Regions from separate parts of the Homo sapiens genome. Here all the other regions are linked to region 5. The links come from fine-mapping of genetic effects on gene expression. A gene starts in region 5. Each other region holds a variant in brackets. All regions are shown on one strand. Distances are between the middles of the regions.

Evidence for each region. PIP is the estimated chance that this variant, and not a neighbour inherited with it, causes the effect.
Region 1: its variant is fine-mapped to the expression of RNF220 in whole blood (TOPMed, PIP above 0.99).
Region 2: its variant is fine-mapped to the expression of RNF220 in monocytes (TOPMed, PIP 0.93).
Region 3: its variant is fine-mapped to the expression of RNF220 in lymphoblastoid cells (GTEx, PIP 0.97).
Region 4: its variant is fine-mapped to the expression of RNF220 in skeletal muscle (FUSION, PIP 0.95).

What each region holds. Positions count from the first base shown.
Region 1 is chr1:44,632,640-44,638,713 of GRCh38, reverse strand. RNF220 (ring finger protein 220) reads right to left here. Exons shown (of 15, transcript NM_018150.4): 7 at 3,126-3,169; 8 at 2,552-2,684. It overlaps LOC107984950 (a long non-coding RNA gene), which reads left to right. Exons shown (of 2, transcript XR_001738031.2): 2 at 2,257-3,476. Among named protein-coding and RNA genes, the nearest start is that of SNORD145, 35 kb to the left of the region's middle. RefSeq lists enhancers at 5,401-5,948, 6,018-6,074. The variant C/T (reference allele first, on the strand shown) is at 3,090.
Region 2 is chr1:44,665,632-44,671,705 of GRCh38, reverse strand. All of the region lies in intron 1 of TMEM53 (transmembrane protein 53), which reads left to right. It overlaps SNORD145 (small nucleolar RNA, C/D box 145), which reads left to right and starts at 650; the gene lies at 650-749. The variant G/A (reference allele first, on the strand shown) is at 3,319.
Region 3 is chr1:44,500,963-44,507,036 of GRCh38, reverse strand. The region is part of intron 2 of RNF220 (ring finger protein 220); the gene reads right to left. Among named protein-coding and RNA genes, the nearest start is that of MIR5584, 41 kb to the left of the region's middle. RefSeq lists an enhancer at 38-538. The variant G/A (reference allele first, on the strand shown) is at 3,119.
Region 4 is chr1:45,173,101-45,179,174 of GRCh38, reverse strand. The region is part of intron 1 of ZSWIM5 (zinc finger SWIM-type containing 5); the gene reads left to right. Among named protein-coding and RNA genes, the nearest start is that of ZSWIM5, 30 kb to the left of the region's middle. The variant G/A (reference allele first, on the strand shown) is at 2,664.
Region 5 is chr1:44,402,156-44,408,229 of GRCh38, reverse strand. RNF220 (ring finger protein 220) reads right to left here and starts at 2,975. Exons shown (of 15, transcript NM_018150.4): 1 at 2,700-2,975. RefSeq lists an enhancer at 1,560-2,082.

The DNA of each region.
Region 1 (6,074 bases), 230 kb before region 5:
CCATCTCTAAGGCCTGTTGCCCTCAGCCAAGTGTCTCCACCGAAACTCTTGCCCGTTCACTGCTTCCCACAGCAGATTACATTTGAGGTAACCGATCTGATCCATCAGACCAACCTCCAGGGGCCTGGTGGGAAGCTTTGCTGAGGATGAAGAAGAGGCCCTACTCTGGGAGGAGGGATGGGGGTGATCGGATACAGGAACTTATCTGCAATTCTTCACTTCTTTCATATCTAACAACGACAGCAATCTCTGTTCTGTCAGCACGCACAGCGCAGTTTAAATGGGCCTCGCCACTCGCCTGCTCATCCTGCCTCTGCCTCCTTCTCTCTGAAGTCTGCTGGGCAGCTTCTTCAGCTGGCGTTATCACTCCCTCTAACCGGTCTTGGCAGGCAATCTAATTCCTCCTGAAAAGGTCACCGCCATTTTAACTGCCTTTCAATCACATTAAGCACGCGCTGCCCGGCTTGCAGCCCGGCCCGCCCGGCGGGCGATCAATGCGCTGCACTGACACCAGCCCGCCTGGCGAGGCCACACCCAACCCCCCAAGAGTTAGGGCCTATCAGTCCTGGCCAGGGAGGGTAGGCTGACAGATGGCCAGCTTTTGCAGACAGGGTTTTGGGGGCAGAGGCAGTAGGGATCAGCCAGGGCCTCCCTTTGATAGCCCCCCCACTGAGGAGCCTCAGCCTCCTCCGCTCCACTGCGCCCCGCTCTCTGCCTCGTGGCCCCCGCTGATCTCGCTGTAAAACAGCCTTTCAAGTCTGCCTGTCTTTTGACTGCACTAAGCTGTTTAAGAGGCGGCAGCAGCTTCTATCAGGAAAGCTGGAGCAATTCTCTGCAGATAAAGGCACCTCCGGCCCCTGTTCCCTCTTCAAGTCTCACTCTCATTCTCGCTCTCCAAATCGCTCAAAGAAAAGCCCCCTTTGAACTCCCCTCAGGAATTCTTGAAAGGAACAACCTCACAGTGTAAACACTCAGGGAAAACGGATACCCGCCCGGGGCCTAAGAGCCCCTCACACTGCTGTGCAAGTGCATCCCGGCACAGGGGAAATACTCTTGTCAAATCAGCAGGCCCTTTGCAGCTTTATCCTCCATAAGCCCTGTCTGGTGCCCAGAAGCCATCAGGTCCAGGTCTGTGCCAAGGAACCTAAGAAGGTGCCACAGCAATGGAGGATGTGAGCAGTTGCAGCTGCCAACAGAGCTAACCAGAGCAGCACGTTGAAACTGACCCTGTGTGGCTGCCATCGGACACCCATGTGTCCAACTCATGGGACAGTCGTCAGCCCTGCTGCTCACTCTTCTAGGGCCTCAGATACTCGAAGGCTCCAGTACGGGATGAGTGAAATGGCAAACTAACACTCTCCAGCTCCGGCTCAGGGAGACTGTTTGGTCTGACTAACCTTCCTGATTTATGTTTTGGCTTGCCCCCAAACACCTGGGTAATGTGAGAGACGCCCAGAGGCATAATGTCTCATCTGGGCTCTTAGCCCCTTCGTGGAACCAGTCTGCACTGGACGGCCCTGCAGAGACCACTCCTCAGCATCTGCCCAGGTAGCACGGCCCCACGAAGGCAGAGAACTTCTTCCCAGCTGCTGTGAGATTCCCCAGGGACCATACACAGCAGTATTCCCAAAGGTGTTGCCCAGAGAGAGAGGCAGACGGGAAGCAGATTGGCTCACTTAATGACCACAAGCTGCAGTACCAGCTGTGCTTGTGCACAGAAAGAGAGAAGAGCTGGAGGCCAAGAGGCAGACAGCTCCCCTTTTCCCCTGCCCAAGGCTGGGGAGTTTAACAAGTCACTAACCCTGGGCACCCAACCAATTCTGCTGTCTGACCTGGTGGGGGGTGTCAAGCCTTGCTCTTCCAAGGAGCTGGGAGGGCACTGGAGATGGGCAGGGCCCTGCACACTCCTTTGTAGCAACTGGGGAGAGCCCAAGGGAAGGAGGGAGCAGCTGGGCCCAGGCCCCTCTTGCTTCAGGGCAGAGGGCGCCCAGGGAGAAGGGATGGGATCAGAGCTAAAATTAGATTCACCAATGAAGCTCATGGGAGGTCAAATTTTGCCATAACTCACTCTCCTCTGTAACTGATTTCCCTGACATAGGGCTGAAGAGGAGGAGGAGGAAAATCCAATGTGTTTGCCTGGAAGCCCTCAGGGCCCCCAGTGCTGGAGGTGTACAGCAGGTTGCTGGATTCTCATTTATCAGCCTTAAGAGGGATGGAGTGATAAATGCATAACCGTCCCTTTAATATTTTATGCAGGTGCTAACGCGGCTTGGCTGTCACCTTCAATGCATCACCCGAAGCTGAGAGCCCCCCTTCGTCACTCCTAGCTTGCAGCCTCACAATTCCATTTCCCCACCCAAATACATCCATTTTAATATGCACATCACAGGCAGGCAGCACGGTCACAAAGGAGCCCCACCAGCAGCAGTCCCCACGTGGTGGAACGGATGGATGACCAGCCACCAGCCTCGGCCTCTTGGCTTCCAGCAGATGGATACCCAGCAGAGGCCTGGCACCAGAGTGCCAATGTCTACGTGTCAGCTGCTTGTACCTCGGAAGCCACCTTCCAGGAGAGTGGTGGCCCGTATCCGCTTCTGTCCACACCACTCATACTCCTCAAAGCGGTTGTTGTTCTCATGCTCGATGTCCACAGCATCATCCTCAGCCATGCAGGAGCCTTCCCTCTGTGAAGAGCAGAGCAGGATCATGCTGGGCCCAGGCCATCCCCACCTGCTCCCCACAGTCTGCAACGAAGGCACAGCTCTAGCCCCAGCTGTGGTGTGCCAAGTGGGCCCTCAGCTCTAGGGCTCCTTTGAAGCAAACCAATTTAGAGGTCAAAGACCTGGGCCTCTTCCCAATAGTTTTCCGCTGGAGCCCAAGGAGGGAATGAGTGAGAGTGAAAGCAAAAGGAGAGAGCAGTGGTCAGAAGGGAAGAAGCTGCTGAGACCACATGGAGACCCCAAGAGCCCACAGATTCAGGGGCAGTCAGCAGCTAGTGTCGGGGGAAGGGAGCGGGGAAGGAAGGTGGGTGGTGATGGCCCCTCTACCTTAGAAAGGCAATGCTCCACATGCCTACTCATCTCCTGCTC[C/T]GATCCTGCCAGGGGGCGGTTGCACAGGGGACATACCTGCCCTTCATCTTGCTTCCTCCGTTTCATTTTCCCAATCCGAGCTGCACGGGGAAACCGAAAACAAAGCACAGAACAAGCAGACGGTCACTGCAGCCCCCAGGGTCCCAGTGGAGCTGACACATCCTGACCTCTTGCCAGCCATTGGCCTTTTTATTCAGTGCCTGATCTGGCCCTCATCTTGAAATACCTCCTGCTCCTTTGGGGACTGGGCTTTGCCAAGAGCACCTGGGGAGGAGACTGGTGCTAACTAAGCCAGTGAGTAAGTCCACTCTTTGGCTGCAGCTGGTGCAAGGTCTACCCATACCTTTCTATTTGCAGTGTTTAATAAAAATCCAGTGAGCAAAGACACTCCATGTTGCTAGGTATCTCTCCAGAAGGCCAAGACCATGAACTCTTTTGGTGTCAGGAAATACAACTCTAAAGAGCATCTCTTGACTAGAACCTAACCCCTCCGATGGCCTGACTTGGCCTGCTGTTCACTCATCAGCTAAATCCTCTTTGGTTCCTGGGCCAAGAGCCCTGAGGTACAGCTCCTAGCATCCCACCTAGAATCTTATCAGGAAGAATTTCTCTGAGGTCCACTAATCCCATTTCACAGAAGAGGAGACTGAGGCCCAGTCATAAAGGTAAGACGGTCTGGGTCAGACCTTTGGCAGCCAGGTCAGAAGGCTCAGGGAACCCTGAGAAGGCAGCCCTTATTGTGCCCACCCGAACCTGTTCCATCATTTCTAATCAGTACAGAGGGGCTGGCAGGCCCTGGAGGCAGAGGGCTGCCTGCCATGTTGTCCCACAGGGGGCTCAGTTCCAAAGTGCACACTGCAAGCCCACAACACTGCTAATTAATGCTGAGCAATGCAATCATTTCTAATTAGCTCACTAATCCCTCTCTGTAGCCCTCCTGTCACTGAAGCAGGAAGGGGTCAAAACAAGAAACTCTCTTCCCTCTAGTCCCTTCCAGAATGCCACAGCAGGATCAGAGATGGCTACTCTGGGACCAGACTGATGGGGAGTGGGGAGAGCCAGCAAAGGAGGGAAAGGTTCCCCAAAGCAGGGCCAGGAAGAACTTTCTCATGGACAGTGACCCTAACGGGAAGCTCATGAATGCAATCTAGGAGGGGAACACAGGTGAGAGCTGCTATGTTACAATTTAAGCTTCTACCGTGTGTCAGGCTCACAGCCAAGTACCTTACCCAAGGTAGCTCATTTACTACCACTTGCTGAAGCTAGATTGCATTATCCCATTTTAACAGATGAAGAAACCCAAAGCTTAGAGAGATCAAGGTACGTGTCCAAGTAGCTAAAAAGTGGCAAAGGCAAGATAGGAAACCAGAACTGACTTCACAACCTAGAATGCCCTCCTGTTTCAAGGGGACCTCCTAACTGAGCAGCATCAACAAAGACTGGTCCCAGTGAGTGTGCTAGGGCTCCAGCTCCTGCCTGTTGTGAGCCTGAGGCAGGGAGCTACTCCAACTCCAAAACAGAGCAACCCCAGAAAGACCCAAACCAAAAGGAAAGCTACCATCCTGCCAGAACTGGGCATGGAGTTTGAGGAAACTTGGTCTGTAGCCCAGTCCATCTCTTCACTTTCCTGTGTCTTCACTATAGGTGACATGACTGTGTCCTAGTGCCTCACTTGACTTTGTGGACACAGATCGAGAACTCTTCATTTTGGCTGCCCTAACTCTTGGAATCTCAGACTTAGGTAGCCTTGACACTCTAGAGCCAGGGCTGGGATGGAGAATGGACGTGAAACATCAGAAAGGCATTGAGCAAAGGACCCTGAGAGTTCTAGAAGTGTAGTAAGGAGCAGTGTGCCAACACAAAGCTTCCTCCCTACCATGCCTACACCAAGGGAATGCCTCCCTGGGGAAGAAGGTGCTGATGATACCACAATGTTCAATGACTAAGGAAACGAATCTCATGGAATGGTCAAGAAAGGCACAATACTGGATGCGCTCCTTGCTCAGGACACACAGGCCAGCAGATGATCCCTTGTTGTCCCTGGAAAGCACCCCAATGGACTGGGCTTCATCTGCAAATTCTCAGAGAAGGAAGGCAGGTTTGGTTTTCACCTTCCCATTCATCTTCTAAATCCTGAATTAAGCTTACCAAAGTGTGGTAGGGAAAGTTCTGTTCTCTATCCAGAGGCTACGTACGAGTAGGAAGAATCAAAGCATTTGCCAAGGAGGTAGCATGGCATGGTTGGAGAAACACGGGCTTTGGTGGGAAACAAACTTCAATTGAATCATGGCTCAGTTACATCCCAGCTGTGTACTTTTAAACAAACCACTTTCACCTCTCAGAGCCTGTTTTCTTATTCACAAAAGGTGTGTAATACTCTTCTCAGAGGCGTTGTGAGAATGGTGCTTAACATGGCGCCAGCCCATCATGAATTTCTCCCTTTTCCAGACTAGGGCTCAGCCTGGCAGCAGAAACCAAGTGATAAGAGCTGGGGATCTTGAACTCCATGGCCTCTCTCACTTACCAGCTGACCCAGAGACCCTAAACCCCTTACAGCCACCCCCCAGATACCACACCCCAGTAAGCACAAAAAGCTAGGATCATTCAATTGTATTCAGCAAACAGGAATGCTCCAGAGGTTTGAATCCAAAAGGGGGGCTGCTAGGTAGTGCATACACGGCCTGCTTTCAGAGAAGGCCTCTAAGAGCTGTCGAGCCCACGCTGATCACCTTTGTGAAATGTGGGCCGACTGATAACTCAAAGAGCCCTGGGATGAGTTAGTTCCTGTTGCCGTGGGAACTCCAGATCTCACTGTATTGTCAAGTCTCAGCAGAGGGGCTGTATTCACACTACTGGGCACTGATTAAAAACTGGAAGAAAAACATTCTCAGCGCCCTGCAGGTTTGTATAGTGAGGTCCCAGCAGTTTGCAAATTCAAAGCTGAGCTCCCGAGTAGAATTGTGTAGCTCGTTCCTCATTCTCCGG
Region 2 (6,074 bases), 260 kb before region 5:
CCACCCGCCTCAGCCTCCCAAAGTGCTGGGATTACAGGCGTGAGCCACTGTGCCCAGCCTTTAAAAACACTTTTTTTTTTCAGTTTAAAAAATTTTCATTTTCTTATATGGAGACAGAGTCTTACTGTATTGCCCAGACTGGTTTGAAACTTCTGGGCTCAAGCAGTCCTCCTATCGCAGCCTCCCAAAGTGCTGCGATTACAGGTATGAGCCACTGCACCTGGCCTGAAATTACTTTTCCCCTGTATTTGAAAAATCGAAACCACAGAGCCCATCACTGCTGTGAGCTGACAGAGAAGCTGATGCTGGCACATTAGCTAGCTGGAAGGCAGCTGCAGATCTGGGGTCATTCAGAGCCCTGGGCCTTGTAGGTCAGGCTTGGCAGCCCAACATCCTTCTGCTGGGAATCCTACCAGCCAGTACCTATTGGCTGCCCACACCGATGGTCGTCTGCCCAGGCCTTTGCTAAAGCCGGTCGTTTGACCCAGAATCTGTCTTCCCTCCTCCCTCTCTTTTTCCCAGGCCAGTGATCCCCTCAGTCTCTCAATACCCTCTCTTACTTCATTTCATTTGGGAAGGGTCTCTCCTGGGGCTCCCATAAGCACTATATTTTCCTGTTGTCGTGTTTTTGATGGCTTCACTCACTGTCACCAGGGCCTGGGAGGGATGATGTACCAAGTGAGCTGAATGGAATCACTTGGCAGCACTGTAGGCCCAAGCCAGAGCTGCTCTGACATCCCAGGCCCAGGCCGTGCCACCCCTCCTCCCATCCAGAGAATGGTCAGCCAAGTCCCACCTAGATCCCCTCTGTGACTTGCTCATAGGCCAGCAACCTTCTTAAAGGCACCGTGTGGCTCTCATGTTCAGTAAACATAAAGAAAAATTCATTCATAGAATTAATGAGTCTGGGGCCTGGTCATGGGACAAACATTTTGCTCTTAAAGTAAACAGAAGGTCTTAAGGGGATCACAGAGAGGGGAAGTGAGGGGGTTTTTGCTCCCCAGGTTTTACCGCATGCCTTTTTTGCTCATCACTGGCTGAGGTCAAAGAAATATAGACATCATTTTAACCCTCAGGAAGTTGTCTCGGACACCCAGGAGACAGTGCTGAAGGGTCTGGACCACCATGGTGGGCCCTGTGGTGGGAGAGGCTTCCTAGAGTAGAGCAGCCCAAGCTGGACCTGAAGCTTCAGGAGGGCTGACAGACCCCCATGGTGAGCAGCAGAAAGTGTGGAAGTCAAGTCCATGGCCATACCACCTTGAACATGCAGATCTCAGAAGCTAAGCAGTGTCAGGCCTGCTTGGAACTTGGATGGGAGAAAGTGCAGAAGTAAATCCCTGAAGGGGGACAGTGAGTGGCTGGAGGGAACAGGGGCCTGGCAGGAGGCCGCGCTGTGCTTTTGTGGGTGGAGAATTAGATGAAAACCTGAAGATCTGTCATGATGGACAGACCTCAAAGACCCAGGTGAAGAGAGTCGTTTGGGATTTGATCCTTGTCTTGTCTACGAGGACCCCAAAGGTCTTTTTTTTTTTTTTTAATACAGAGGAGTTGTATTTATTTTTGGAATCATGATCTCTTTTCTTTCACCTCTAGATAAGAGCCCTTTCTGGCTGGGCGTGGTGGGTCACACCTGTAACCCCAGCACTTTGGGAGGCCGAGGTTGGCGGATCACCTGAGGTCAGGAGTTCGAGACTAGCCTGACCAATATGGAGAAACCCCATCTCTACTAAAAATACAAAATTAGCCGGGTGTGGTGGCGCATGCCTATAATCTCAGCTACTCAGGAGGCTGAGGCAGGAGAATCGCTTGAACCTGGGAGGCGGAGGTTGCAGTGAGCCGAGATTGTGCCATTGCACTCCAGCCTAGGTAACGAGAGCGAAACTCCGTCTCAAAAAAAAAAAAAAAAAATAGGATGCTTTCTAAGTGTCTGCTCTATGCCAGGTGCTGGTGCTGTACTAGACCCTGGATTTGAGATCCAGGCCTCTTTGCAGGCCTCCTTTTCTCTGAATGTCTGTGGTACTTAACACTGTTAACCATGTTCTATCCACATGCCAGGCCCACCAGGAGCTCCTTTCATTATTTTATTAATCCTCACAACCACCTTGTGAAGTAGGGAGAACCCTTAATCCTGTTTTACAGATGAAGAACAGATGCTCGTGGGGAGGTAAAGTGTCTTGCCCAAAGTAATTCCAGATTTCAGCTTAAGAGCCTTACTCCAGAGCTTGTGCATGCCGAGATTTCAGTTGCCATTAGGAGGGGCTGCCTGAATACGATGCCATTTCTAGGAAACAATTAGGGACATGCACAAAGAAAGGGGTGTCCATTAAAGTATTTTTATAACAGCAAAAAATTGGAAACAGCATCATATCCAATAATGGGAGATTTGGTCACCATAAATTATGAAACATTCTATAGCCTCTCTGAAGCCACTAAAAATAATGGTGTAGAAATATATAAACTGACAGGGAAAAATGTTCACAATATATTGCCAAACGGAAGAAAGCAGATTACAAACAATATGATTCCAATTTTATTAGATATTCATTTTCTACTTTTTCTACAGTGAGTATGCATTACTTGTGAAGTAATAATAATTTCAATTTATTGAACTCTTTCCTTCTGCCAGGCACCATGATAAGCCCTCTATAGCTATTATCATATTTAATTCTTTGTATCATTGTCCCCATTTCACAGATAAGGAAATTGAAGCTTAGAGAACTTGATTAAGGTCTGTGTCATAGTTATTAAGTGGCAGAGGCAGAGATTTGAACCGAGATATGATTTTGTACAGTATGTACTCTTAGATACTATGCTACTCTGCTCTGCTCTTCTTTTAAAAAGTAAATAAAAAATAAAGTAATTTGGCCGGGTACAGTGGCTCACGCCTGTAATCCCAACACTTTGGGAGGCCGAGGGGGGTGGATTGCTTGAGCCCAAGAATTTGAGACCAGCCTGGGCAACATGGCCAAACCCTACCTCTGCAAAATAATACAAAAATTAGCTGAGCATGGTGGTGCTTGCCTATAGTCCCAGCTACTTGGGAGGCTGAGGTAGGAGGATTACCTGAGCCCAAGAGTTCGAGGCTGCAGTGAGCCATGACTACACCACTGCCCTCCAGCCTGGGCAACACAGAAAGACCTTGTCTCAAAGAAGAAAAGAAAAATTTGATTTAAATATAGGAACTGTGAGACACTAGAAAGTTTTTCTGGGGAGTAGAGAAAATTAAGACTCTTTCAATTTTTTGCATGTTATTTTATTTTTATTTTTATTTTATTTTATTTTTAAGACAGAATATCGTTCTGTCGCCCAGGCTGGAGT[G/A]CAGTGGTGCGATCTCAGCTCTGGGTTCACGCCATTCTCTTGCCTCAGCCTCCGGAGTAGCTGGGACTATAGGCGCCCGCCACCACGCTCGGCTAATTTTTTGTATTTTTAGTAGAGACGGGGTTTCACCTGTTAGCCAGGATGGTCTTGACCTCCTGACCTCATGATCCGCCCACCTCGGCCTCCCAAAGTGCTGGGATTACAGGCGTGAGCCACCAAGTCTGGCCAATTTTTTGCATTTTAAAAAGAAAACATGGTTTCTATTTTCATTCTGGCTTGCAAATAAAAAAGTACATATTGTACTGCAGACCCTTATGCCTTATCAGCCCATTCCTTTGTCTTCCCCATATGCCCCTGGGGTATACACAATCTAATTTATGCTTGAGTTTTATGGCTTGAACTGTTGTACAATATACGTATTTGTAATTCTGGCACTATCTGTGTCAGTGTTATTTGTTGAGAAATTCTAGAGGACAGGGAGCTTGTGAGATTAAATTGCTTTGTGGGGTACTCGAGAAGTGCTAGGGTTGAAAAGAATCCTTCCACATTGCTGAGGGGCTTCTGGGCATCCCTGGCCTCTTTGACTTCTCAACTGCTTTTGACTCTGCTGGACCACCTCCCCTGTTGTTTGAGATAATATTTTAACTCTCATTGCAGAAGTTATACATACTGATTTTAGAAAGTGGGAAAAAAATCATGAAAAAGAAATTGCCTCTAATCCCATAAATAATTGCTATTAATATTTGATGTATTTTTTTCTATGCATTAAAAAAAATACATGGCTGGGCGCGGTGACTCATGCCTGTAATTCCAGCACTTTGGGAGGCCGAGGTGGGCAGATCACCTGAAGTCAGGAGTTCGAGACCAGCCTGGCCAACATGGTGAAACCCCGTTTCTACTGAAACCACAAAAATTAGCCGGGCATGATGGTGGGCGCCTGTAATCCCAGCAACTAGGGAGGCTGAGGCAGGAGAATCGCTTGAACCTGGAAGGCGAAGGTTGTAGTGAGCCGAGATTGCACCATTACACTCCAGCCTGGGCGACAGAGTGAGACTGTCAAAAAAAAAAAAAACAACAAAAAAAGTGTGCGTTTGTGTAGTATGTGTGTGTATATGGGTATTCTGTTATGATATTGCTTTATAACTTGTGTTTTCACTTAATGTATTACTATTATTTTTAAAAATAATAACATTATTGAGAAATAATTCACATACCATAAAATCCACCCTTTAAAAATGTACTTCTGGCCAGGCGCGGTGGCTCATGCCTGTAATCCCAGTACTTTGGGAGGCTAAGGTGGGAGGATTGCTTGAGCCCAGGAGTTCAAGACCAGCCTGGGCAACATAGTGAGACCCTGTCTCTACAAAAAATAAAAAATTAGCCAGGTGTGGTACCATGTGCCTGTAGTCTTAGCACTCAGGAGGCTGTGATGGGAGGATCGCTTGAGCCTGGGAGGTTGAGACTGTAGTAAGCCATGATCTCACTACTGCATTCCAGCCTGGGTGACAGAGTGAGGCCCTGTCTCAAAACAAAACAAAAAAAAAAAGTACAATTCACTGGCTTTTGGTATATTCACAGAATTGTAAGAATATCACTGCCATCTAATTCCAAAACATTTTCATCATCTGAAAAAGAAACCCCATTCCTGTTAGTAGTCACTCTCCATTCCCTCCTCCCCCCAGCCCTTGGCAACCACTAATCTTTCATTCTCTGTGGATTTGCCTATTCTTGATATTTTATATAAATGAAGTCATATAATATGTGCCCCTTTGTATCTGACTTATTTCACTTAGAATGATGTTTTCAAGGTTCATCCATGCTATCACGTGTATTAGTACTTCATTCCTTTTTATGACTGAATGGTATTTAATTGTATGGATGTATCACATTTTGCTTATCTGTTCACAGATGATAGGAGGTATGTTTCCACCTTTTGGTTATTATGACTGCAATGAACATTCATGGGCAAGTTTTCATGTGGATGTATATTTTTAGCTCTCCTGGATGTATCCCTAGTAGTGAAATTGTGGGATCATGTGGTAACTCTACATTTAATTTTTTTGAGGATCTGCCATACTGTTTTCCAAAGTGGCTGCACCATTATGCATTTCCACCAGCAGTGTATGAGGGTCCTGGTTTCATCCACAACCAACACTTGTTTATTATCTGACTTTTTAATTATAGCCATCCTGGGTATAAAGAGATACCTCATAGTGGCTTTGATTTTGATTTCCCTAATGGCTATGATGTTGAGCATGTTTTTATGTGCTTATTGGCCATTTGTAAATCTTCTTTGGAGAAAGACCTGCTTAATATATTCAGGTCCTTTGCCAATTTTTGAGTTGGGTTTACTTTTTGCTGTTGAGTTTTAGGAGTTTTCTCTGTATTCTGGATATTACTCCCTTATCAGATACATGATTTGCAAATATTTTCTCCATGCTGTGGGGTTTTTCTTTTTTTCACTTTTTTTGGATTATGTCCTTTGAAATAAAAAGTTTTTATTTTGATGAAGTCTCAATTTATCTCTTTTGTTTGTTTGTTCCTTGTACTTTTGGTGGCATGTCTATGAAACTGCTACTTAATCCAAAGATTTACTCATATGTTCTCGTCTAACAGTTTTGTAGTTTCAGCTCTTACATTTATGTCTATGATCTGCTTAATGTATTATTGAATATTTCTCCATGATTTAACGTTTTTCTTTCTTATAAGTGGAATTACCAAGTCAAAGATTGCATGTTTTTTTTTTTTTTTTGAGA
Region 3 (6,074 bases), 99 kb before region 5:
TCATTGTACCACCCCAGCTGCCCCTCCAGTCCCACCTGCTTCTCATACTTACCCAGAAATAGTCATTGGCCTTTGGCCTGAGGGCATGATGGGTTATTTGAGACTCCGTGATCAACAATCTATGATTGGTTCTGGAGTCTGTAGTCACTCATTAGCTACTTTTGATCTCCCCAATAATCCCATAAGGCAGGGATTTTTGCCCTCATTTTACAGATGAAACCGAGGCAGAACGTTTCCAAGGAACTTCTGTGTCTATGAATTTACCACACCGGGCAAGTCAGTGGGGAAGCTCAGACAAGACCACAGGACTTCTGGCTCCTACTCCAGTGTTCGTGCTTTGGCCAAGCTCTCTGAACATCGAAGAAGCCCAGCCAGTCAGAGCGCCCGTTTTGGGAGATGCTGGACCTGCTTTCTGCTACAGGGAAGAGGTTTCACTTGGCTTGGGCCATCCGGCCTGCAGGGTATTGCTGGAGGCTGATAGATGACCCCCAGGGGCAAACAGATGAAGGCCAGGAGGATCCACTTCTGGCAAACCAAAAGGCTGCCCCGAGTGGAGAGGCCCTCACCCCACCCCTGCCCTCACTCCACTCCTGTGCAGACAAGGGAAATATGTGTATGGCACATGGCGGCCAGTGCCAGTGGCCTTCCTGCCTTGGTGTGATGGACCGAAGAGAAGAGGAAGAGTCCCACTGGCCACTGAAGACCATCGCTCTCTCCCACTATCAGGAAGGAGCTGGCAGACTCTGCCCCCTTCACCCCTCCACACCCGCCACCAGCAACCCTGCCACCCTCCCAAGTCCTTCTGCATACCCAGCCCTCTCTGACCACTGTGATGCTGGGCACTGGCCAGGATTCCACATCCTTTTAAGAAATGTAAGGGACAATAACTTCTGGGCTAGAGTGCCTGGGCATTGCTTGGGCACCGGGTCCATGAAAAGAAGGCATCTTTTATGTGTTTATCTTTTTGTTTTGTCTTGTTTGCTGCCCAGAGAAGAGGTAAGGAATAGGAGTGCTCTATTAACCTTATTTTCAACAAAAGGAAATAAGGGGGTATGATGGGCTACCTTCTAGAGGTGTCAAGGATGGGGGAGAATGATTCTCCCAACCAGAGTAGGGCGGAGACTGGGGCAGGGCATGGGGGGAGGGGAGCGGAGAGGATTGGAGGGAGGTCAAGGGAGAAACGAAGAAAGAGGAAAAAAGAAAAACCCAGCAGTGCGCCATGTCGCATTGTTCATGCTCAGCCCTTCAATTTGCTCTCTGCATTCTCCTGCCGTGGGGAGAATGTTACGCTGGCTTAAGGGACAAATCAGACACAAAATAAAGACCAACACTCAGCAGTGAAGCAATTATCGCAACATTTTATGCCAGGACTGTTCCTTTTGAAGGCAGCCTGGTGCTACCCGCATGTACCTTAACCCGTTCCTAATAACCATAAAGTTACCATTATTTACGGTACAAGACATTAAATAAATAATGCAAACTCAGGCAAGCGAGCAGTCCATGCAGAGCTAGGCAAGAGGGCTTCCCTGCTGCGGGCCAGCCGCAGGGGTTAACGCGTGATGGAACGGATGCTGACTGCAACCTGTCCAGAGGCCTGGTGGCTTCACTCTGCCTTCTCCCTCAGGAGCCCACGTAGAGCCAAGGAGGCGGAGAGGCCAGCTGGCCAGGAGAAATCAGGGAAGGCCTGACCAGAGTCTAACCAAGAGGGAATCCAGCCAGGACCTACAAAGCTCGTGGACTTGGCCAGAGTCCTGTTTCCTTGGGGTTGCCTGGGAGGGAGCCAGGACCTAGAGGATCTCTCCTGATACAGTGTGGTAAAGAGCAGCAAACACGTGCTCTGAAGTCAGGCAGATCTGGGTTCAAATCCTGACTGCCACTTAGAAGCTGTGTGATGCTGCACGAGGGACAAACTCTCCCAACTCCAGCTTCCTTACTTATAAAATGGGGGAAGTAACATATAGTGTATGGGGTTGCTGTAACGATAAATGAGGAGCATCATGGAAAGCGAGGGGCACAGTGCTTGGCTATTTCATGTCTAGTTCATGATAGTTTTTCTTCCCCTCTGAAAGGAATTCTTAGCCTTTACTTTTACAGGTCAGAACCAGTGATGTGGTTGCATCAATCTGAAATGGCCCTGAGGATACCACATGTTTCTAGCTCAAGGTGAAAGGGAACATTGGGAGAGGGAAGAGAGGCCAGAGACAAATTTGAAAAAAAGGATAGGTGCCAGCTTCTTAAGACAGATATGGTCACGTGCTTTTGGCAAGGGAATTTTCCAAAAAGAGATTCTCGGTCTGTGCCAAAAAAGATACTGATGCCAATGAGACACAGGTGCTGGGATCTTGTCACTGAGGTATCAGAAGCTGCTTACAAAATCAGATATGGAAGAGGGGACTTTGCTCTCTCCCTCACTGCTCTTTCCAATTCTAACCATCCTTTCATTATACCCGCCCACCCAGAAGCTCCAGAGAGCCAAATCGTGTCATGTGCTGTCACAAACCCGGATCCCTAAGAGGACTCTCAAAGGGACCTGCCATACTGGATCAGCCCCTCGAACTTCTGCCAGGTCCCATGCTCTGAATATGAGCACAGGGGGCCAGTCAAGGCTCAGAAGGGTCAGGGCCCAGACATCCCAGATAACGGGGTCCTTAAAAGTGTCCGTGTCCCAGCCATTCATATCCACATCCTTGGGCAGATTAGCCCAAGAACTAACCAAAAGACTTAGGTGCTGGGCTGGATTGGCCCCCATTAGCCCCCTGGCTTCTACCAGAGCAAGTTATTTTTGAAGTGCATCAGGAAGATCTAACCAAGGGTGGCAACATTGATCAGCATACCTAGAACTTTACGGAGCATCAGAATGATCTGAGAGCCTGTTAAAACACGGATGGCGGCCGGGCACGGTGGCTCATGCCTGTAATCCCAGTACTTTGGGAGGCTGAGGCAGGTGGATCACAAGGTCAGGAGATCGAGACCATCCTGGCTAACACAGTGAAACCCATCTCTACTAAAAATAAAAACAATTAGCTGGGCATGGTGGCACGCACCTGTAGTCCCAGCTACTCAGGAGGCTGAATCAGGAGAATCGCTTGAACCCAAGACGTGGAGGTTGTAGTGAGCC[G/A]AGACTGTGCCACTGCACCCCAGCCTGGCCAACAGCAGACTCTGTCTAAAAAAAAAACAAAAAACAACCCACGGATGGCTGGGCCCCACACCCAGAGCTTTCAGTTCAGTAGGCCTAGGGTGGCGCCTGAGGATTTGCATTTCTAAATTCCCAGGTGATGCTGATGCTGTTGGTCCAAGCTTTGAAAACACTAGCCTAAAATTCTTCCTTGGGTTAACTTTCTCAATGCCTTCTCTTCACCTCAGATCTGGCCTTGAAAGGGGAACAGAATGGCCTGGGATAGCTGTTTCTCTCCTGTGGGAGGTGATGTGGCAGAGGGCGGAACAGGGGGTGTCTGAGATTATATGTGGCTGCAAATCAGATGGACAAGTAAACCAGCAAAATACTTTTAATGTGGTATTGGATGAGGGCAGTGTGGGCATGGAGGTCTTCCCAGCACACTAATGTATGCACACATGGACATTCTCCTCTTTCTTCCCTTGGCCTGCATTTGGAGTCCAATCCTCTTTTTGCTTGGTGGGACACGTTTTCACCTCCAAAATGCTTTCCTTGGTAAACGCTTCTTTTTTTTTTTTTTTTTTTTTTGAGACAGCATCTGGCTCTGTCACCCAGGCTGGAGTGCAGTAGCGCAATCTCGGTTCACTGCAACCTCTGCCTTCCAGGTTCAAGTGATTCTCCTGCCTCAGCCTCCCAAATAGCTGGGATTACAGGCATGTGCCACCATACCCAGCTAATTTTTGTATTTTCAGCAGAGACGGGGTTTCACCATGTTGGCCAGACTGGTCTCGAACTTCTGACCTCAAATGATCTGCCCATCTAGGCCTCCAAAAGTGCTGGGATTATAGGTGTGAGCCACTGCGCCTGGCCCTTGGTAAACACTTCAAATGCACCCAACATTAAAGTAAAAAATATCAATGAAATCTTAAAAAATGCAGCCTGGGCAACACAGCAAGACCCCATCTCTCCAAAAATAAAAATAGAAAAAATTAGTCAGGCATGACAACGTGCTTCTATAGTCCCAGCTACTGGAGAGGCTGAAGCAGGAGGATCGCTTGAGCACAGGAAGTCAAGGCTGCAGTGAGTTACGATCTCATCACTGCACACCAGCCTGGGCGACTGAGTTAGCACTCTGTCTCTAAAATAATAATTTAATAATAATAATAATAATAATTCACACGTTTTTCTGTAGTATTCGCTTGTCAAATGAAGTTAAATGTGATGTATGTTACAATGTATTGTGTGGCATGTGTGATATTATCTCATTGGATTAGAATTATTTATTCTCCATTTGCTTTTCTGTTTAAGAATAAGCTCCTTCAGGGCAGGGACAGCTCTTATTTCCTCTGTGTCTCCTAGGGCCTGGCACAATGTCTAACACAAGGAATGCTGAGCAAATTATTTAGTGCATGAATATTTGCTCCAGGAAGATGAGGCCTAATACCATGCAGATGGTTATTACATGTCAAAATAAGAATAATCCCATTTTTATATTCTCTTTCCCTCTTCCTCTGATCTTTCTCCTCTCAAATATTTTCAGGCTGGAATTCAGGGATTGGTTCTGGAGTTATCTTTATGGTTGTAGAACCCCTAGAGCTGAGAACACACAGTGGTGCCATTTAGAGAACTGACTGCCCCAGTAGACTCCCAGAATACACTGGGACTCCCAGAACACTGGATCATGCGGCAGCCTTAGCCAGGAGCCTCATAAAGTGTATGTGTGTGTGTGAGCGTGTATGGTGTGTGTGTGTGTGTGTGTGTGTGAGAGAGAGAGAGAGAGAGAGAGACAAAGGATCATACTGCAGCCAGGAGCCTTACAAAGTGTGTGTGTGTGTGTGTGTGTGTGTGTGTGTGTGTGTGTGTGTGTGTTTCAGTGGTGTGAAGTCAGCTGGGGAATGCCAGGTGCCCACTCCCCAACTTGGAATTGCAGATCTCTAGCCTGCTGCGTGGCTGTAGCTCCCTTCCTCCTCCTTCTTTTTCTCCCAACATTGAGAAAGCAGTATGCTGCCTATTTCAAAGAGTATAATAGCTCCACATTTTTATGCTTCTTTTTGGAGCAATTAGAGTGCAGAGGAGGGTCAGCAGAGGGTAAGAGCGGAGAAAACAGCTGATTCCTGAGCACTAAGAGGTCCCAAGCCACCCAGCCCCCCTCTCCTGCACCAACCAAGCCTGCACTTGTCACAAAGTCAGCCCTGACAAGTGCTCTGCCGCCGCCGCTGTGCTTGGGTGGAGTAGAAACGGAGGGGAGAGAGGGAGGGAACTTCATTCTTTCCTGGCTTAAAAAGTCAAAGGCTCTGTAAGGCATGCAAAAGGAAGAAAGAAATTGTCCTGCTTGGCCGCATTGCTTTCCTTTCTTGACCAGTTCTGCCCACACCCAATAACCCCATGCTTCTCTGCCCAGCCTTCCTCCACCTGGGCCCGGGAAGGGAAATGGGACGCCTGCTCCTCCTCTGCTCACCCATCCCCAGCCTTTCTGCCAGCCTGGGTGTCCCACAGCTGACCGGCCTGCAAACAGGACTCTATCTGCAGAATCCACCCCCTCCCCCTCAACTCTAGCATTAACCTTTCTCTTTCTTTCAACAAAAGCCAAACTCTTTCAAAGCCAACCTGATTGAAATTCAAAAACTTTCCAGGGCCTCTGCACCACTCTCTACTCCTCCCCATACTGACAGCCGCTGGTCACCCCCCCACACCCTTCCCACTCCCCACCCCCAGCAATGTAGAAAATAGCGGGACAAAGGGCTCTCCCCACCCCCTCCCCCAAGCACAAGACTCTCCCTTTGTGTCACTGTGTCACTCGGGCTGGTGGAAAGGGAGAGCTGGCTCTGGGCTCTCCTATTGTCTCCCGATACCCCCACCCCCACCCCCACCCCCACAGCCTTCTGCAGCCTGGAGGCCTTGTGCTGGGTCCCGCTCAGTTGGCCAAATCGAGGGGCCTCTATGGGGCCCCCAGGCCCAC
Region 4 (6,074 bases), 770 kb before region 5:
TTGAATAGTGCTGTAATGAATATACAGGTACACGTATGTGTCTTTTTGGTAGAATGACTTATTTTCCTTGGTTGGATTTACTCCTAAGATATTTTTTTCTTTTTCATGCTATCATAAATGGAATTGTTTCCTTTATTTCATTTTTTAATTGTTTGTTGCTAGTGTATATAGATAGAAATATAACTGATTTTTGTATGTTGATCTTGTACCCCTAACCTTGTGGAATTCATTCATTTATTTATTTATTTTAATTTTAAATAGTATCTTATTGAATGTTTTATTCACAGAAAAATAAGCTTTAATCTACAATGAATGCCAGATTATACAGCAGAGAGCAGTTTTCTTAGTTTTCCACACTGATAGAAAGGTTCTTACTAAGTGAAAAAAGCCATAAAATTATATTCACCAATAGAGTACTCTGTCTCAAAACATTCCACATGATTGTTCACAATACTAATACAATTAAATCAGTCATTTACGTTAAAGTATAACAGTGATAAAAAATGCAAAATCTAATATAAATTACATTAAAACTTTTGTTATATCAAATCAGAAATGCAAATTTCTTACTAAATACAGAAAAATGGTCAAATATATAGTAATTTAAGATATTACATTAATGATACAGAATAGGAAAGTGGTAAACTCCAAAAATCTATAGGCATATCTGCAAACTTCAGACTTCAAAGTAGAATCTGACCACCCAAACATTAATGTAGCATTTGTCTAATTTTTGTTTTGTTTTGTTTCTGAGACGGAGTCTCACTCTATCACCCAGGGTGGAGTGTGGTGGCGCCATCCTGGCCCACTGCATCCTCCACCTCCCAGGTTCAAGCGACTCTCCAGCCTCAGTCGGTCGAGTAGGTGGTACCACAGGCATGCGCCACCACACCCAGCTATCCCTTCATTTCTGCAAAGACAGGGTTTCAGCCTGTTGGCCAGGCTGGTCTCCAACTGCTGACCTCAGGTGATCCGCTTGCCTCAGCCTCCGAAAGTGCTGGGATTACAGGTGTGAGCCACTGTGCCCGGCGCCATTTGTCTAATTTGAAGATACAGTTGTCCCTTGCTATCCGTGGGGTTTTGGTTTCACAACCCCCTAGGACCTGAGGATGCTTAAGTCCCTTAGATAAAATCACATAAGGCCGGGTGTAGTGGTTCACGCCTGTAATCCCAGCACTTTGTGAGGCCAAGGCAGGCAGATCACCTGAGATCAGGAGTTTGAGACCAGCCTGGCCAACACCCTTGTGGAATGAATTTATTACTCAAATAGAGATAAACTTTTATCTTCCTTTCCAATCTGGAATCCTTGGTCCTTATCAAGTCACAAAACTCAGTGTTGTTTGTGCCATAGAATGCATTGTATTAAGGGATTTTTCTGCTTGCATTAGACTGGGAAATGCTTTTTAATGTGCTATTGTGTTATTAAAGAATATGATCCCAGGGAAGCAAGAGTGAGAGAAAATGAAATGAGACAGGGAAGGAGGGTAAGGCAACATAAGGATGTGTCATAGAGCTGGTTACTGCTTGGTATCAAGTAGCAACTGATTGCTCAATCTCCCCGAATTGTCTTATAAAGCAGCAGAGAGAATCCCCTTTTATGCCCATCTTTCATTTCATGAGATTCAGACCTGGGAAATATTTTGCTATTAAAGGTATATTTTGCATACCCCTCTGTAACTTTCACCATTATTGATTTCACAGTTTGGGTTGTAGGAATTGTAGAAATTGCTCTATTGCTGTTACCACTCTGTATAACCTGCAAACTTAAGTACCTTAAATTCCCTGTGTATATGGTGTAGGTTTTTCAGTTCCAATGTGGAAAAGGGGGTTGGCCATAGTTCATAGCCTTGTTAGAGTCTATAACAACTCTTAATGATTGGAAGTGTAAAATAAATAAGAACAAGCATTCAGTACATTTAAGAAATTTTTTTCTTTTTCAGTGTCATATTCTTTTCTTCTTTCCTATTATTTTCTTTAGTGTTTATTCCTTATTTTCTGCATACGTTTTAGAAACATAATCACTGTATAGCAAAATAGCTAATTATGAGGTGTCATACAATGATACTGCTCTTCTCTTCCCTCCTCTCTCTAGTTCCTGAATCCTTAATCATTCCCTTTTCTTCTGACTTCCCTTCCTGAAAACTTTAGTCCAAACCTGGGAGAAGCAAGAGAAAAGGAAGTGAGATGGGAAGAAGGGATAGTAGCAGTGGCCTGAAAGGGTATATTGGAGCCCAACTGGAGCAGTGGCCTAGCATGGGGTGCTAGAGCCAAAGTGGGGTGAGGAGGGTATCCACATGAAGGGGGATATAATTTGAGATGTCAGAGTCTGAAAGGGTTGAGGATGACTTTTGTATAGGGGTGAAGGGGAGTGTAGAGCCATAGGGTGTTAGTGTTCAGATGGGGTGAAGTGGGCATAGCAGGGGGTGGCAGCAGTAGGTGCAGGTTTTTTGAGCTTGAGCACAGTGAGAAGAATGTCCTTATTGGCAGGGAGGAGCTGTGGTGGCAATGAAAGATTGGTTATTTATAGATATTGATCAACTAAGTAAATCAATTAAGGATAACAGGAGCCAAATTTCTCACTATCAGAAAAAGTAGCTAAAATGTAGACCAGGCCGGGCGCGGTGGCTCATGCCTGTAATCCCAACACTTTGGGAGGCCAAGGC[G/A]GGTGGATCACCTGAGGTCATGAGTTCAAGACCAGCCTGGCCAACATGACGAAACCCCGTCTCTACTAAAAAATAGAAAAATTAGCTCGGTGTGGTGGCATGCACCTGTAGTCTCAGCTACTCAGGAGACTGAGGCAGGAGAATCGCTTGAACCCAGGAGGTGGGGGTGGCAGTGAGCCAAGATTGTGCCATAGCACTCCAGCCTGGGCAACAAGCAAGACTCCGTCTGAAAAATAAAATAAGATAAGAAAAGATAAAGACCAGGGAGAAAAGGTGAATGAACTCTGGGTTTTGGATTGTAATTGGAGATACCCACGTGAACTCATGGTTTTTAGTATATATTGGAATATATATATAATATATATTATATATATATATGGCATTCAGTTAACTGAGAGGGCCTTAGAGCAGTAATATCCCAATAGCAATAAGCACACCTAATGCCCATATCTTGGTTTCCAAGTACTTTTCTCCGATAAAAGGAACAAAGCCTCCTTGGAGAAATGGCTGAATTTAGGGGTGAGGCAGAGAAAGTATCAAATGAGCCTTGAACATGTTCTTGTGCCAGAAAGCAGGGAGGTTCTTAAAGAATTATAGCAACACATCAAAAAGGATACAAAAGCCAGCTTTGAAGAGATTCCCATTAGCCAAATATGGGATGAATTGAGTGTCAAAATAATGATAATAATGGATATAACCAACCCATTGAATGAAATAGAAACCCATGAGTTCATTGTGTCAATGGTTTTTTTTTTTTAAAGGCCAGGTGCCATGGTTCATGCCTATAATCCCAGCACTTCGGGAGGCTGAGGAGGGAAGATCACATGAGCCCAGGAGTTTGAGACCAGCCTGGGCAACATGGCAAAACACCGTCTCTACAAAAATTTTAAAAAATTAGCCGGGCATGGTGGTGCATGCCTGTGGTCTCAGCTACTTTAGGAGGCTGAGGTGGGAGGATCGCTTGGGCCCAGAAGGTTAAGGCTGCAGTGAGCTGGGATTGCTCCACTGCACTGCAGCTTGGGCGACAGAATGAAACCCTGTCTCCAAAATAAAATATTTTTAGAAAGAGTAAGTTGAAAATTTGATGAGTATATTGGCATAATGTCAATATGGTTCCCATGAGATACTTTAATTATAAGGGGAAAAAGGTAACTTTAAAGTGAGGAATCCAGGCAAACACTACTGTGATCAAATGAGCAAAGTTAACCTCACCAGTGATGGGAGAAATCAAAATTGTGTGCCATTTGATAGGAAACAATAAGAACATGGCTCCACTTCTATGATATTACTGCCAAAGATAGATAACCTGAATCTAATCATGATGAAATAACAGGCACTACTGAGGGACATTCTTCAAAATAGCTAGCCTGAAGTCTTCGTAAGTATCAGAAGTCAGAAAGTTAAGACTACAGGTGGTTCCAGATTGAAGGAGAATAAGGAGACATAAAAACTAAATGCATTGTATGACTTTGGACTGGATCCTTATGGGGACATTTTTGGGGCAATTGGCAACAGTTGAATGGGGCCTGTGCATTATATGATAATGTTATGGTATTGATTTCTGATTTTCATGATTTTTATAGTTCTGTAGGAGAATATCTTTGAAGGAAATACACAAAAAAAGTATTCTGGGGTGATAAGGCAGTACGTTGACAACTTACTCTCCAATAACTCATTTAAAAATTATTTGAACTGTACTTGCAACTTTTCTGTAAGTTTGAGATTGTTTCAAAATAAAAAGGGATAAATATGATAATCTTTTTCTTTTTTTTGAGACAGAATCTTGCTCTGTGGCCCAGGCTGTAGTGCAGTGGCGCGATCTCAGCTCACTGCAAACTCCACCTTGCAGGTTCAAGCAATTCTCCTGTCCCAGCTCCCCGAGTAGGAGAGTATTTTGTATTGGGTGTGTCATGCCCAGCTAATTTTTTTTTTTTTTTTTTTAGTAGAGTTGGGGTTTCACCATGTTGGCCAGGCAGGTCTCAAACTCCTGGCCTAAAGTGATCCGCCCACCTCGGCTTCCCAAAGTCCTGGGATTACAGGTGTGAGCCACCTCACTGAGCTGATAATGAACTTGAATGAACTTTGATTAATAGTGAGTACTCCTCCAATTACCTATTTATTTTGAATTGTTTAAGAGAATATGTTTTTCTTAGCTTACATTAAAAATCTCCAATTATTTTTATTAAAAGATCACTTTTGAATGTTTTAGTTTTATTTCATATTTTGTTTTGTTTTTTTGAGACAAGGTCTCGCTTTCTCACCCAGGCTGGAATGCAGTGGCCTGATCTTGGCTCACTGCAACCTCTGTCTCCGGGTTCAAGCAATTCTCCTGCCTCAGCCTCCTGAGTAGCTGGGAATACAGGTGTATGACACCATACTTGGCTAATTTTTATATTTTTTGTAGAAATGGGGTTTTACCTTGTTGGCCAGGCTGGTCTCAAATTCCTGACCTCAAGTGATCCACCCACCTTGGCCTCCCAAAGTGCTGGCATTACAGTCGTGAGCCACTGCACCCAGCCTTCATGTTCATTTTAAAGGTTAAATTATAATCAGTACAAACATACGTAACTCATCTAATTTCATTTTAAATGATATTTGGTTCCTACTCAGATTATAAGCTAAAGTTTTTTAAGCAATTATGTCTTTATTGGTTATATAAATTTACAGTCTTTTAAAGCTGTGTAAATATTGCCACTTAATATAGTTTCACTTTTTATTTGCATAACAATAATAACAATATTAAAAGCTAACACAAAGTGCTGGGCGCTTTGCCAAATATTTAACATGTTATAATTTATGTAATCCATATAATATTCTTTTGAGGTATGTACTATTATTATCCCAATTTTACATATGAGGAAATGAGGCCCTGATAAGAAACTAGTCCAAATTTATATAGTTATGTGGGGCAGCTGGGGTTAGAGCCCGGCTCCTGTGTTCAAAATCTTAATCACTGTTCAGTTATGCACAGTGAAAAATGCATGGATAACTTAAGTCCTATAGAGATTGAAAAGAATGAAAAAAACTCAGTTAAATTTAGGAATTATATACTGAAATTGTTTCCTTTTCTGTCTATAAGAAAATTCAGACATAGGTTTTGTATTTGGTGTGTGACACTAATATTTATTGCCTTAGTAACATCCATTCTTGCCTTTTATGTAATATCACACTTTTAATGTACAGACTTAAAGAGAAATTATTTAGTTGGTGCTGTACCAGAGCAGTAGCTCCGTTATTGAGACTAATATATTCAGTTCATATGTTGTGGACCTATTATGTATTCATGCAAAAGTAACGTTTCCTCTAGTAGTACCAAATTGTTTAAATTGGTGATGATTATAATTTTTGAGACAAGGTCTTGCTATGTCACCCAGGCTGGAGTACAGTGGTATGATCATAGTGTACTGCAGC
Region 5 (6,074 bases):
GCGAGCGGGTGCATTATTCAGCTCGGAAGAGTCTCGACTGGGAAAAAAAATCAACTCTTTTAGGGAAAACGGGGGAAGAAGAGGTGAAGGCGAAACCTACATAAACTTGGGCCCAACGCGGAGCCGAGCCCACTACTCTTTGGCCCGACCTCTCCCTCCGGCTCTCGGTTGCCTTTGTATATAGAATACTCTGGGTCCCAACAACCTCCGCACGAAACAATCTGCGCCCAACTTTGGGCAACCAAAGCGCCAGTCCAGGAAGAACCGACACGTGCAAGGGCCCCTGGTCCGCAGCCGCGCGGGGCCCGCGGGGCAGGGGCTCAGAGCTGCCAGCCTTCGACCAAAGTCCAAGGACCTCCAGCCCCCGAGCAGCCCCGCCCCGGGGGTCACCCGGGTCCCGCCGCCGCGCGCACCACCGCTTCAGCGGGCAGCCGCGGACTCCTCCACTCCCGCTTCTCCTGCAAATACGGACCGGCGCGGGGCTGCCGGGCCCTTCCAGCTCCTGGACTGCGGATGCGCAGTGCGGGAGGGAGGGTTCTGCGGCCCGCACCGCGGCCGTCCGGCCGCCGCACACCGCGCGGCTCGCAGAACAGGTGTGTGTCCCCGCTCGCTCCGCGCCCGGCCCCGGCCCTGTCGGCCACCAGCGGCGCGACGCGGCGCCGCCCCGTCCTCGGCCTTCCCCAGCCTTGCCTCGAAGCGCAGCAAGCGAACTCACGCCACTTTTGCCGGGTCTCTGCGGGCCAGGAGGGATCGGCACGGAAGACGCCAGCACCGCTCTTCCTCGACGCTCTTTCTGCCTTTCCCCCCTCTGCTCATTCCCCTTTGCAGGAAGAGCCCGCGAGACGGAAAGAGGAGGCCAGGCAAGGCAAAGCCCCCCTGCCCACTCTGCTCCCCCCAGTCCCCTCGCTGCTTCCTCACTGCCGCCCTTTTTTTTCTTTATTTTTCCTTTCTCTCCCCTTTGCCCCTCAAGCCGAGTCCGGAGCGGAGGCGAGAGGCAAGATGTGGCTGCTGGGCGTCGTGGGCAGCGAGTGCGGTGCTCTCCCCCTCGGCGGCTCCCGGGCCAGTGGGCCGGCGCAGACCCCAGACGACCCGGGCCGGCCAGGTAGGGCTGTGCCCCCACACCTATGGCCCGGGCCCCATGCACCCACCCAGTGCGACGCGCGCCTGGCTCAGGGCCGGAACACGGGCTCTCCGCTGGAGCTGCATCCACGACCCGAGAATGCAGGGTGTGCTTAACGGGAAGCGAGAGCTTTCCCCCTGCCTCCTGGCTGCCCTAGTCCCCGCTACTTCGGGACTCCTGCGCGCCCTCGCCAGCTGGGGTCGACCTGGGCCGCGAGCTCTCGGAGAGGCTCCTGGACTGGGGGATGAACCGGGCATCCCCTCGGATGGCCTCACCACCGTGGGCGGCCTCGCCCGGGGGGCCACACGGAAGCTCTCCGCCCAAGTTTGTTGTGCCCTGGAAGAAAAGGCTTTCTCTTACAAAGCACAAAGGCGAAACGCCCAGGCCGAGCCCTGAAAAGCCCCGGGTTGGGGGGCGGGGGTGGGGTGGGGGAGGCCGGAGGCTCCGGAGTGCGGTGGCGGGGCTGGGTTCCGGGCAGAGAAGGTCGCTCGGCCCGGGCTGACAAGCGCGGCGGCAGTGGCCGCAGGACCGCAGCGACCGGCGTGCTCACTGAAAAGTTTTGTTCTTAAGTCAGAAGAGAAATTGTTACTCAGTTTAAGGCAGGTCTAAGATAAAAATAAAACTACAAGTAGAGTAGTCAAGTAGCCCTCGTCTCCACGATCGTCCTCCCGCCTTGCTCAGTAGAACCGCTGGGAGAGGGGGTCCCGACCCCGAAAATCCCGGGAGATCCCACGTGTCGGGCTACTCTACGGCCAGGCCGGTCCAGCCCAGAGGAGTGGGGAGTTTACCGGTGGCGTTTAGAACGGTCCGCCTCTATGCTAGCACCTGCCTCCTTCCTGCCCGCAGAGGATCCATCCATCCTACCCCACCTCCCTCCCTCCACACCCTTCACACCCGCCCCCGCTAGGAAAAAGTCAGCCGAGCACCCGGGGTCCAGGGCTAAACAGCCACTCCCCGGGTATCCCGCGGAGCCGGCTGTGTGTGGGGTGGAGGCTGTCGGGGTAGTTTCTCATTCGGCTCGCCCCTTCTCCATCCGCCCGCCGCCTCGGGCTCCCCACTGAGTACCACCCAGCCCTGGCCTCGCCGGAAATCAACGCGGGGTACATAGGGGAGCCCGGAAATCACCGGGGGGTGCACCAGAGAGCCCGGCGAGAAGGCATTCTCGATATCGACCCGAACAAAGTGGGAATGGGGCTTATTAAGAGACGGAGAAAAGAAGTCCTGCTCCCTTCCCTTGCAGTGCCCTCACCCTCCCAACTTGTCCAATTCCCGCGTCTGGTCCCTCCCCCTTGCACCTCCCCCCCTCCCCAAATAAAACACATTAAGGAAAACTCAAGACGGAAAGTTTGAGCGAGGCAGCGCACGGAGCGCGCAGGGCGCCGATGCCGAGAGGCTCCGTCGCGATGATCCAAGACGCGCCAGTCCGAGTCCCAGTCCCTGCCCCCGTCCAGAGGGAACCGCCCGAATCCCTAGGAAACGGACCCGGAAAGTTAGCCAGGTTCCTGAACAAGCCGGCCGCCCTCGCACCCACCCCTCTTGGGTACGCACACACGTCCACACCCCTTTCTGATCTCCATACTTGCCGTGGAAATTCCTTGGGAGAACGGTCGCACTTTTCAGGACACGGAGGGAAGCAGGCGGAGAGTGTGGTGCATGAAAAGTCCCGGGTTCGCAGAGCCGGCGGAGGCAGCGGCGGCGGCGGCGGCGGCAGCGGCAGCAGCAGCAGCAGCAGTAGGCGGCTGGCCCCGGGTTTGTGTTCGCGAGCTGCCTGGGATTGCATGTACAGATCAAGAGACTCAGTTGGCGTGAGAGAAGGAGCAGTGCTGCCTCTCAGCGCTGGATCTAATCAGTGAATGAGCCTCCACTCTCCCAGGGACTCGGAGACACACACACGCGCGCACACACACACGCACGCACACATTCTCTCACACTCACACACATACAGGCACTCTGAGCACTGAATACATTAGGGCACTAAGGGACTCTGGGAAATGAAGTCCAGACCCAGGGCACTCCTGGAGAACAGACCTGCTGGCCCTCACCAAAGAGCTTGGAAGTCTTGGGGTCGCGAGCCATTGTGAACTAAAGAGAGCGTTGGCTTTTGTTTACATCCCTCCTCCCCCACCCGCAAAGGTCTCAGTGAATGGTTTCGTGCTTGTTGTTCTTCCTTTCCTGAACCAAAAGGGACCAAGAGTAAATGGGCAAAGCTTGAAGACTGACATCCACTGCTGCTTAAATGACCCCCAAATCCTGGGTCCCTCAAAATCTCTGTCTTTTCCCAGAAAAATCTTACCTGCTGCTTTGTTCCTGGAATGCTTCTCTGGGTCTTTGACTATAATAATAAATAATAAATGAATATTAATAAAACTGTAACTTTTGGAGGAGGTGAAGGCCTAGTATAGCATCCAGATGTGAGAATAAAATTTTTTATTGGTGTTTTATTGATGTTTATATTACAGTTCATTTCAGATCATTTCATATCATCCTATAATTCATCAAACACAAAGATAAACAGGGGAAATGGATAGAGAACTAACATTCCTGAGTGCTTTCTAGGAGCCCGGTTATGAGACTAAATGCCTTTACATAATTTCATTTACTCCTAAGATTAATTCTGGAGATAATAATATTACCACTAGTTTATAGAAGAGGAAACTGGGGTTGAAAGGGTTTTGTAATTTGCCCATGAAAACGTGGTTAACAAGTCTTGGATAGCAGGTAGTTCTAGTTCTGAAAGCAAAGTTCAACCAAAATCAAATCCTGGTTTAAGAAGTCATTCCTGGCCGGGCGCGGTGGCTCACGCCTGCAATGCCAACACTTTGGGAGGCCGAGGCGGGCGGAACAAGAGGTCAGGAGTTCAAGACCAGCCTGACAAACATGGTGAAACCCTGTCTCTACTAAAAATACAAAAAGTAGCCGGGCGTGGTGGCATGCGCCTGTAATCCCAGCTACTCAGGAGGCCAAGGCAGGAGAATCGCTTGAACCCGGGAGGCGGAAGTTGCAGTGAGCCGAGATCACACCATTGCACTCCAGCCTGGGTGACAAAAAAAAAAAAAAAAAAAAAAGTCATTCTTTTGTTTTGTAGTTAAGTGTCTAAAACCTCAGATTTCTCATCTGGAAAAAAAAAAGGGAGGGTGGGGAGAAATGGAGTACACACTGATAATCCACTTTACAGAGAACCACATAGGATTATAAATTGTCTAAAAAGAATGAGACTCAAAATCTCATTCTTGCTATTATTTCATTGTCCTTTTTACTTATGTTTAACATTAAGGTAGCATCTAAATATTAAGTATGTTTATGTATATGTGTGCTGTTGGTATTTTAAAATTTTAATTGGCAACTCTAAATAAATTGTTAATTTGATCACTTAGAGTTCTACATTTACAACTATTTCTATAATTCGTGATATCAGGATTATTTGTTGAGGAACTTTATTTTTATTTATTTATTTTTTTTGACATGGAATCTCACTCTCTCGCCCAGGCTGGAGTGCAGTGGTGTGATCTTGGCTTACTGCAACCTCCGCCCCGAGTTCAAGCGATTCTCCTACCTCAGCCTCCCAAGTAGCTGGGATTACAGGCATGCCCCTCCATGCCCAAATAATTTTTAGTAGAAATACGGTTTCACCATGTTGGCCAGGCTGGTCTCAAACTCCTGACCCCAAGTGATCCGCTTGTCTCGGTCTCCCAAAGTGCTGGGATTACAGGGGTGAGCCACCACGCCTGGCCTGTTGAGGAACTTCTAATCCATGTTTAATCATTCATTCATACACCAGCATTTATTATGTTAGGCTCTATTCTTTCCACTAAATTATTATTTCCTGCTGGATTGTAAACTTCATGAAGTCAAGAACCATGTTTGTTGCATTCTACATCATACCCTAAGCACCTTACAGCATCAGTCTCTTAGTTGAATGAATAAACGAGGATATAAAAATGAACTCCTGTCCTCAAAGAGCTCACCATCTAGTAGAGGAGACAAAGAAAGAGTTAGAAATCAATTTGATAACCACTGTAATAAGGATGACCTTAGAATTTATTGATCTAACTGAGACAAGTTTGATGATAAAAAAGGGACACTTTTAATAATTACACTGGGATGACAAATGTCAACAAGGGCCATCCTGGGCCAAGCAGATTGAATGGTCACCCTAGCTACATAAGGTATTTCATTCATTCATTTAACAAGCATTTATCGAGAACTCTCTTGCCTGGTGTGTTAAAGGAATTATAAGCCACTGATTTCCCTCAAAATTGAAATATGAAACATTGAGCAGCAAGAGATAGGCAGGAGAAGTGGGCCAAATCACAAAAGGCTTTGTATACTAAGCTAAGGAAAGTGGATGTTATCCTACAGATGATGAGAAACCCCTAGAGGGTTTTAGGGGTGTGACAGGGTAGGATTTCTGTTTTAAAACAAGCACTAGTTCCTGGGTGGACAAGGTGGAGGTTAGACAAGAGGCAGGGAGGCCAATCAAAAAGTCTATCTCAAGTAATTCAGTTGAGATGAAGTAGGGCCTGAACCAAGGTACTGGGGCAGAGTGAGTGGAGAGGAGGGGACACATTACAGTGAGATCTAAAAGGTAGAATCAACAGGATTTAGCCATTTTAGTATGGTGGATGAAGGCAGAAGGAAGACTCTATATAAATCCTAAATAAGATTTTATTATTTATAGCAAAAGATGTTGTCAGTACTTTAATGTTTATCAGTAGTAAAAGGCTCCCTCAGACTAACTTAGAGAGTTCCCGTAGATCCAGTGCACATTCTCACAGATAGATGATACAGATAAGAAGGCCTGTTCAATCATCAAGCCAAATATTTTTAGCTGTTACCACATGCAGTGGTCCTCACTACGATGCAAGTACTCAGAAACTAGAATTAATCACTGTCTATAACAGCAATCTAAACGAATAAATTAAATGCAAATCCCTCATAAAATCAGAGCAAAATT